Regions from separate parts of the Homo sapiens genome. Here region 2 is reported to be linked to region 1. Evidence: microRNA targets listed by miRTarBase, many of them from high-throughput screens and not tested one by one. Region 1 holds a microRNA gene; the other region holds the end of a gene's coding sequence.
Evidence for each region. Region 1 holds the annotated microRNA hsa-miR-1197 (UAGGACACAUGGUCUACUUCU, at 2,805-2,825, opposite strand). A microRNA usually pairs through its seed, bases 2 to 8, with sites in the 3' UTR of a target mRNA and lowers its output. Matches are read on the target gene's strand: a 7mer-m8 pairs with bases 2 to 8, a 7mer-A1 pairs with bases 2 to 7 and ends in A, and an 8mer does both.

Region 1 (3,798 bases):
ATTGGTGGCGGAGGTCATTGGTGCTACCTCATATGTTCTCTCTGGTTATAAAAAGCAGGGTTGACATGGAAATACCTGGCCCTTCTCCAGAACCTGAGGCCCTCCTCCCTCACAGTCCCATCCCCAAATGCCACAGATGAGCCGAGGACCCACAGTCACAGCTAAGTGCCATCAAAACAAATGCAGCACCAGCAAAACCTACTTCTGTGCCTTGGCTTTAGAGCTGGCAGGGAGCCTTTTCCTTCCCCAGAGGCTGGCATCACCTCCAGGAAGTCCTCCTGGAAAGGATCGGGCACCAAGCATTACTGCCAGACAGGACGCTTAGAACAGGGGAAGCACCCATCTCGGCCCACTCACCCTGGCCTGGGCCTGACAACTGTCTTATCCGGAAGCCTTCCAAACTGGTGTTTGATACTGAAGAGTGGTCCACAGAAATGATTTATATAAAAGAAACAGATATGCCAAAGGAAACCTCTCCTTGAGCACCCCAAAGAAGGACCATCTGCAGAAACACAACCCTGAGGGTAGGTCAGATGTGCTGGTCAGTGGAGCAGGTGTGTTCCTGGGGAGGTACATGCCCCGTGGTGGGCCATCCACTCCCTTCCCCTGGATCAGGGCTGGTGACAATGCCCTCCCTTCAAGCTGGCATGACATCAAGGATTCCTCCAGATTTAAAGGAAGTCAACTCCACAATTCCTGTGAGAAATAAACAGGTCTCAACCTGGGCCAATTCCAGGGCCCCCAAGGTCTCCTCTTGACCTCAGAATCAGCTTTTCTTCCCTAAGGTGTCATTATATCCAGGACATCCTTTCAGAATAAACTGCAGGCTAGGGGCAGGCGTGCAGGACACCTGCACTATCTGTCCAGGGCATGCTGGCATTCCCCTGCTGTGGGCTGGGCTCATTCAAGCCCATCACTGAGTGTGGCAAGGACGAGGCATCCCCCTACAGCAGGGTCAGATGCCGAAAGAGCCTGAATTACACACACGATCCGTTGGGAGCACAACGAAGGCAACCACAGACAACTCACCTGCATGTTCCGTGACACTGTCGTGGTGACACTGTCTTCCCCCAGGCTGCCATCACATTGAAAAGTCCTCCTAAGAAGGGATAAGACATTGAGGGTTAGCGCAATCGGTGGCAAAATTCAGAAACATGGGGCACGCTTAGTGATCAGCCATTTGCTCGTGTCTCCTTATTTATGTCCACAGCACCCCTTCCCTGAAGCTGAGGTCTGGACCAGAAGGCCTCCAAGATGGGATTTGATACTGGAAAAGAGGTTAACCAGGTGTGTTTCGTCCTCAATAAAGAAACAGAAACCCAGAAAACCTCTCTTCAGGTACCACCAAGTAACACTGACAAGAACACCACTGATTCCTTCCCCAAACTTGACATTCAGTCCTGGAAGTCCTGTTAAATACGGATTGGACACTGGGGTTAGTAGAACAGATGACATCAGTCAAAATAATACAGCACAGGCTTCGTGGTTAACCATAGATTTCTGTCCAGTGGACTGGAGCTGAGAGTAACGCCCTTCCCTGAAGCTGAGGTCTGGACCAGAAGGCCTCCAAGATGGGATTTGATACTGGAAAAGAGGTTAACCAGGTGTGTTTCGTCCTCATTAAAGAAACAGAAACCCAGAAAACCTCTCTTCAGGTACCACTGATTAACACTGACAAGAACACCACTGATTCTTCCCCAGACTTGACATTCAGTGCTGGAAGTCCTGTTAAATATGGAATTGCACACTGAGCGTTAGTTAGTTGATTTGCCGGAAGAAGCCAAGAGTTGGATGCATGCTGCTTGCCAACCATCTATCCAAGTACCCCAGTGGAGCAGACCCCACATCACGTCTGGAAGTTGACATCACAGCCAGAGGTGGTGATGCCATAAAAAGGCTGGTCACAGCAGCTATCGCGTTTAGGGTTAACCTCCAGGGCCATCTTTTCTCAGTTACTCAAGAGAGGCACAGATGCCCCAAAGCAAGGCTGACTCCACCAAAGGTCCTGCTAAGGACCCAGTGGAGACTGAGGTGTGACGGGCCAGGCGACCTTGGTTGTAAATTAAAGTGCATACACTCAGGTCAGCTGATCACTGGAGGACTTTGGGATGGTATAGACAGCATGCCCCTTCCCTTGAACTTGGATGCCTCCACATCTAGGAAGCCCTCCAAGGAAAGAGATCGGAGTGAAAATCAGTCCAACTCAGCCACATTTGGCATACATGTCGCAAACGCCTCGCAGATGCTCTCTTCAGAGTCTAACAGAGTGCAGCTGGCCCCAGTTTACTGTCTCTTTCCCAAAAAGTTGACACCTCTTCCAGGAAGTTCTCCAAGGGGGCATTAGATACTGAGGGTTAGTGGACCAGGTCACAAACGGCACAAATAAAGCGTGTGCTCTCTGGTCAACCATCTCATGTATCCAGGCACGTGCTGACACCACGCTCCTTGTCCGCAAGTTAACCCTGCTGCCAAGCCAGAGCAGTGTGCTGAGAAGAAGGCTGCCACACGTGAGTTATCGTCACACACAAGACAAACACATCACAAACCCCGCTGGGTCACACTGAGCGCAGACCTAGTGGCCCCCACCCCCGCAGTTGATGTTAGCTCCAGGAAAGCTTGCAAGGCGGGATTAGATACTGCAAAGAGGTCGACCGTGTAATGTGCGCCATAAATAAAGCGAACGCGCCACGGACCACCTCTCTCCAAGTACCAAGCAGCAGCCGTACTGACACCAGGACAGTGGCTCTTCCGCAAAGCTGATATCACCTCCTGGAAGTCTTCCAAGGCGAGATGTGATATTGAGAAGAAGTAGACCATGTGTCCTACGTCACAAATAAAGCGTACACACCATGGTCAACCGCATCTTCAAATACCAGGAAGTGACGCTGACCCCTGGCTCTCTTCCTTTCACCTGCTATCACCTCCAGAAAGCCTCACAATGCGCATCATGAACTACCAGCCACCGGCAATGTGGCAATGACCACAAACCCACATCCAATGCCACTACCACCTCCAGGATGCCCTGTAAGGGTGGGACCGGTACTGAGTTCTTGGCTGGTGGACCAAATGGCCAATGTAATAAATAAAGGACTGGGTCTGCAGCCAACCACCCGGTGACCTGCACTGCACCCTGGCTACCACTCAGGCCTGGCTCTCAAGTCGGCATGGCCTCCGGGAAGCCCCAGGGCTGGCTGATACTGAGAATGAGTGGACCATGCTACATCTGTCATTCAACAATGCATATGCTTTATGCTCTACCATCTCTCCAAGTACTGTGGAATGGCGCTGAAGCCAGATCAGTGTGTCTCCCACGAAGGTGACTTTGCCTCTCTCTGGGAAGCCCTCTATGACTGAATTTGATATTGAGAAGATGTGGACCATATTACATACGACACAGAGATAGCGCATGTTCTATGGTCAACCATCTTTTCAGGTACCTTGGAGAGGGCTGAGGTCAGAGCCGGTGTCTCTTTCCTCTCACTAGCATCACCTCCAGGAAGCCCTCTGAGGCCTGATGTAGTATTGAGAAGAGGCCACCATGCAATGTCTGCCGCAGATGCAGTGGACGCAGCACAAAGGAGCCCCTCAAGAATGGAGATGATGCTGGAACTAGTGCTATGACTGACACTCGTTCCTGCCTACAGAAAGCCCCCCGAGGTGCACGCTGTTATAGGAAGGTGGACGAAGTAACATGCGTTGTAAGTAAAACATATGAAGCATGGCCAACTTCTACTAAGTACCCCGAGGCAGTACTTGTACCAGAACTGGTGCTTTGTCTCCTAAGCTTAACATAACCTC
Region 2 (3,000 bases), not on the chromosome of region 1:
GCGCAGCTGCCTTCAGTAAGCCTCACGGGCTCTTCTGAACTCTGCGGACGACCTACCTGAGAGCCACAGGGAGGGGGTCAGCTCTTTAGACACAGAGATGTTTCCTTGTGTAAATGCCGGTGGTCCTGAAACAGCTCCTCAGGCACAGTTGGGAAGTGGGGTCCACCTGGGGCCCATCTGGGGGCGCCCATGTCTCTTGCCTTTGCCTGGGGCTGCAGCACAGGGCTAGCCCACCAACAGTATTTCTGGGGGGTCTTCAGTGCCCCATGCTGCTGGAAGGGGAGGACCAGGCTGATGAGACACGAAGGTTTTCTGGGGCAGATGAGTAAATAAAACACTTTTTTTTGCCCTATTTTATCTTTTTATTTTTTTTAAAGTCAGTGCTGCGGGCTCCTGTTCTAATGGAAAAGAAGGATCCCTGGGCTCAGGCCTGTGGAGTAGGCAGGGGATGTCCCGGAGCCAGGCAGCCATCGGGTGATCCAGCCCCACCACTAACAACCTGGCTGACCTCGGCCAAGTCATTTAACCTCCCACTGCCTCAGTTTCCCCACTTGTAAAAGGAATTGCTGGGAGGACTGGGCAGGTAAAAAGTGTTCCATGAGCTGCCGTGCAAACATTAGAAAGCTGTCCCCTCTCCCCTAGGGAGCTGACCTCGGCCAAGTCATTTAACCTCCCACTGCCTCGGTTTCCCCACTTGTAAATGAGATTGCTGGGAGGACTGGGCAAGTAAAAAGTGTTCCACGAGCTGCCGTGCAAACATCCGTATTACGGGGCTGTCCCCCCGAGTTGACCTCTCCAGTTCTGTGGGTCTGTGGCTCTTGGCGGAAGGGAGTGAGGGTCTTCGACTCTAAGGCCTTGCATCTCCCAGGTCAATGAATTGTGCATTAACAAATTTTAAAAATCATAACAGAGATGCTGGCAACCATCAGGACCCAGTCCCTACAGAGGCTTTACCAGGCGGGTCGCGGACTACACTGCTAGCAAGCCAGCTCCCTGCGGCTAGCTTGGTTGGCACTCCAGTAGGGGCTCCCTTCATGAGGGGAGCTGCGGTGAGGCAGACAAAGGCACTGGCTTCTGATGGATGCTCTAGGCTGCACATCCCCCCACTGAATGGTGGGGGCAACCCGCCTCTTACCTGCTGCAGCAAAGGCCCTTGCAGGGCAGCTCGGTTCCCATATTCTAATCTAATTACGTTTCTTTGCCAGTTGGCAGAACATGTTGGCTTCGGGGTAGGGAGTGAGGGCTGGAGATTTGATTTGGAGCAAACATGCAGTTCATTAGTGCCAGGATGAGGAACTGACCGATTCACTCCCCTCTCTGACTGCAGCTGGTTCCCCGCCCCCAGCAAGGTGCAGCCAGCTGAGTCCTCCAGACCTTCCCTGTCCGCGGGCCCCTGAGGACTTTGTCCATTCTGTCCCTCATATCAGATGGTGGGCAAAAAGTAAGAAAAAAATATTTTCAAATATTGGTATTCTATCCTAGAAATACGGCTCCCTACTCATGGAAGGGATCTTAGGTCACCTTTGGAAGGAAGCAAGATGAGGATGCGTAGAAAGCCCAGCGTCGAAAAGAACCATGAAAACAACACGAAAACCTCAGGTCACACCCATGGGCTGTGCTTATAGAATGCATGGGATGTGCAGCCATGAGGGCGCAATGCTCTCTCCCCTCAGCAGCCCGAGTGCTCTGAAGACTCAGCACAGAAGGAGGCAATTTAACGTTAGCATTAAAGTTAATATCACTAAAAGCAAACCAAATGTTCCCATCCAGCAGAGCGTGGAAAATTCATCCTGTTTTGGTGCCGGTTCCTGGCTTCAAATTAGTAGATGTCTCAACTCTTCCCTTTCTTTCTTTATCATTTTCTTTCTTATCTCTTATTTTTATATTTCAAAATTGTATTTTAATTCTGCCTTGCGCCCTCCCCCGATGTAAAGACATGTGATGGAGGTGCGATTCCTGCCTCCCTAGCCGCTGTCCTAATCTCCTCCTGTTGTGGGAAATGAGAGCTGTAATTGTCGCTTGTTTTAGGGAATGACTTTCCCTGCCACGTAGGCCACGCATGTGGTGGCCTTCCTGAGGGAAGGAGTGGCACTGATAAGAATAGTGAGGACGTGGAATCAGGGTGCATGAATGTCTGTTACTATCCTCCCCTGGGACGGGGAGGGCACTTCTAACAAATCCAACATCAAGGTCAAAAGCCCAGCCCCCCCCGCCGGCTCATGTTCAGAGAAGTGATGCCATTGGAAATCCACCCGCCATGTCTAAAAGAGCTCCCAGTGATCCCAAAGAGTGCAGGGGAGGGCAGTGGGGAGGGGAGGAAAGGGAACGAAAACAGGAATGTCCAAAGAGAGGTACCTACCGTGAAACAGACACACGGCGTCTGCCCTGCCCCCAGGAGGTAAAAAAGACTTCGGCCAGTCAGCAGGAGATTTCAAACCATTTCTCAGACACGAAGGCCACAGGAATAAGATGCCGATCAGAAGAGGAGGGTCTGCGGTGAACAGAAAAATGGGCTTTGGCGTGCTGGTACTTGACCATGACACATGATAGGCAAGCCGGGGCAGGCCTGTGGTGGGGACTGGCTTCTTGAGAAAGGAAGCACTAATGTGGACTCCTGGCCTTGCCAGGAAGGGACCACCCCCCACATTCCCTGTGGCTGGGAGAAGTCCTCACACACGAATGCTTTCTACCCTGGGAGGCTTTGGAAGACACAGACTGAGGGATCTGGGCACACGAGCACTTTGCTGCACAGGCCGGAAGGCTGTGCCGTCTCCACATTTTCGTTTTTGAATTTGCAGGATTAGCCCAGAGCCTGGGGTCTCTGCCTCTGATGGCAGATTTGACCCACTTTATTGCACATGACAGAAAGGATAGAACCTGGCTCCCAAAATGTCTCGCCCATATTTTGTCACCTTTGAGACTAAGCTACCATTTCCCAAGGCCAATGAAACCCAACAGAGCATGACCTTGGGCCAAAAGGCAAGAACTAGTTCCATCCAA

Region 2: miRTarBase lists AJAP1 as a target of hsa-miR-1197. The part of its 3' UTR that is shown has no 7-base or 8-base seed match.

Annotation. Positions count from the first base shown.
Region 1 is chr14:101,024,647-101,028,444 of GRCh38, reverse strand. It overlaps MIR1197 (microRNA 1197), which reads right to left and starts at 2,881; the gene lies at 2,794-2,881. It overlaps LOC124903407 (mucin-2-like), which reads right to left. Exons shown (of 5, transcript XM_047432049.1): 5 at 1-3,798. MIR380 (microRNA 380) reads right to left here and starts at 3,428; the gene lies at 3,368-3,428. It overlaps MIR323A (microRNA 323a), which reads right to left and starts at 2,713; the gene lies at 2,628-2,713. It also overlaps MIR758, MIR329-1 and MIR329-2.
Region 2 is chr1:4,773,918-4,776,917 of GRCh38, reverse strand. AJAP1 (adherens junctions associated protein 1) reads right to left here. Exons shown (of 6, transcript NM_018836.4): 5 at 2,360-2,491. The coding sequence ends at 2,419. Among named protein-coding and RNA genes, the nearest start is that of AJAP1, 120 kb to the right of the region's middle.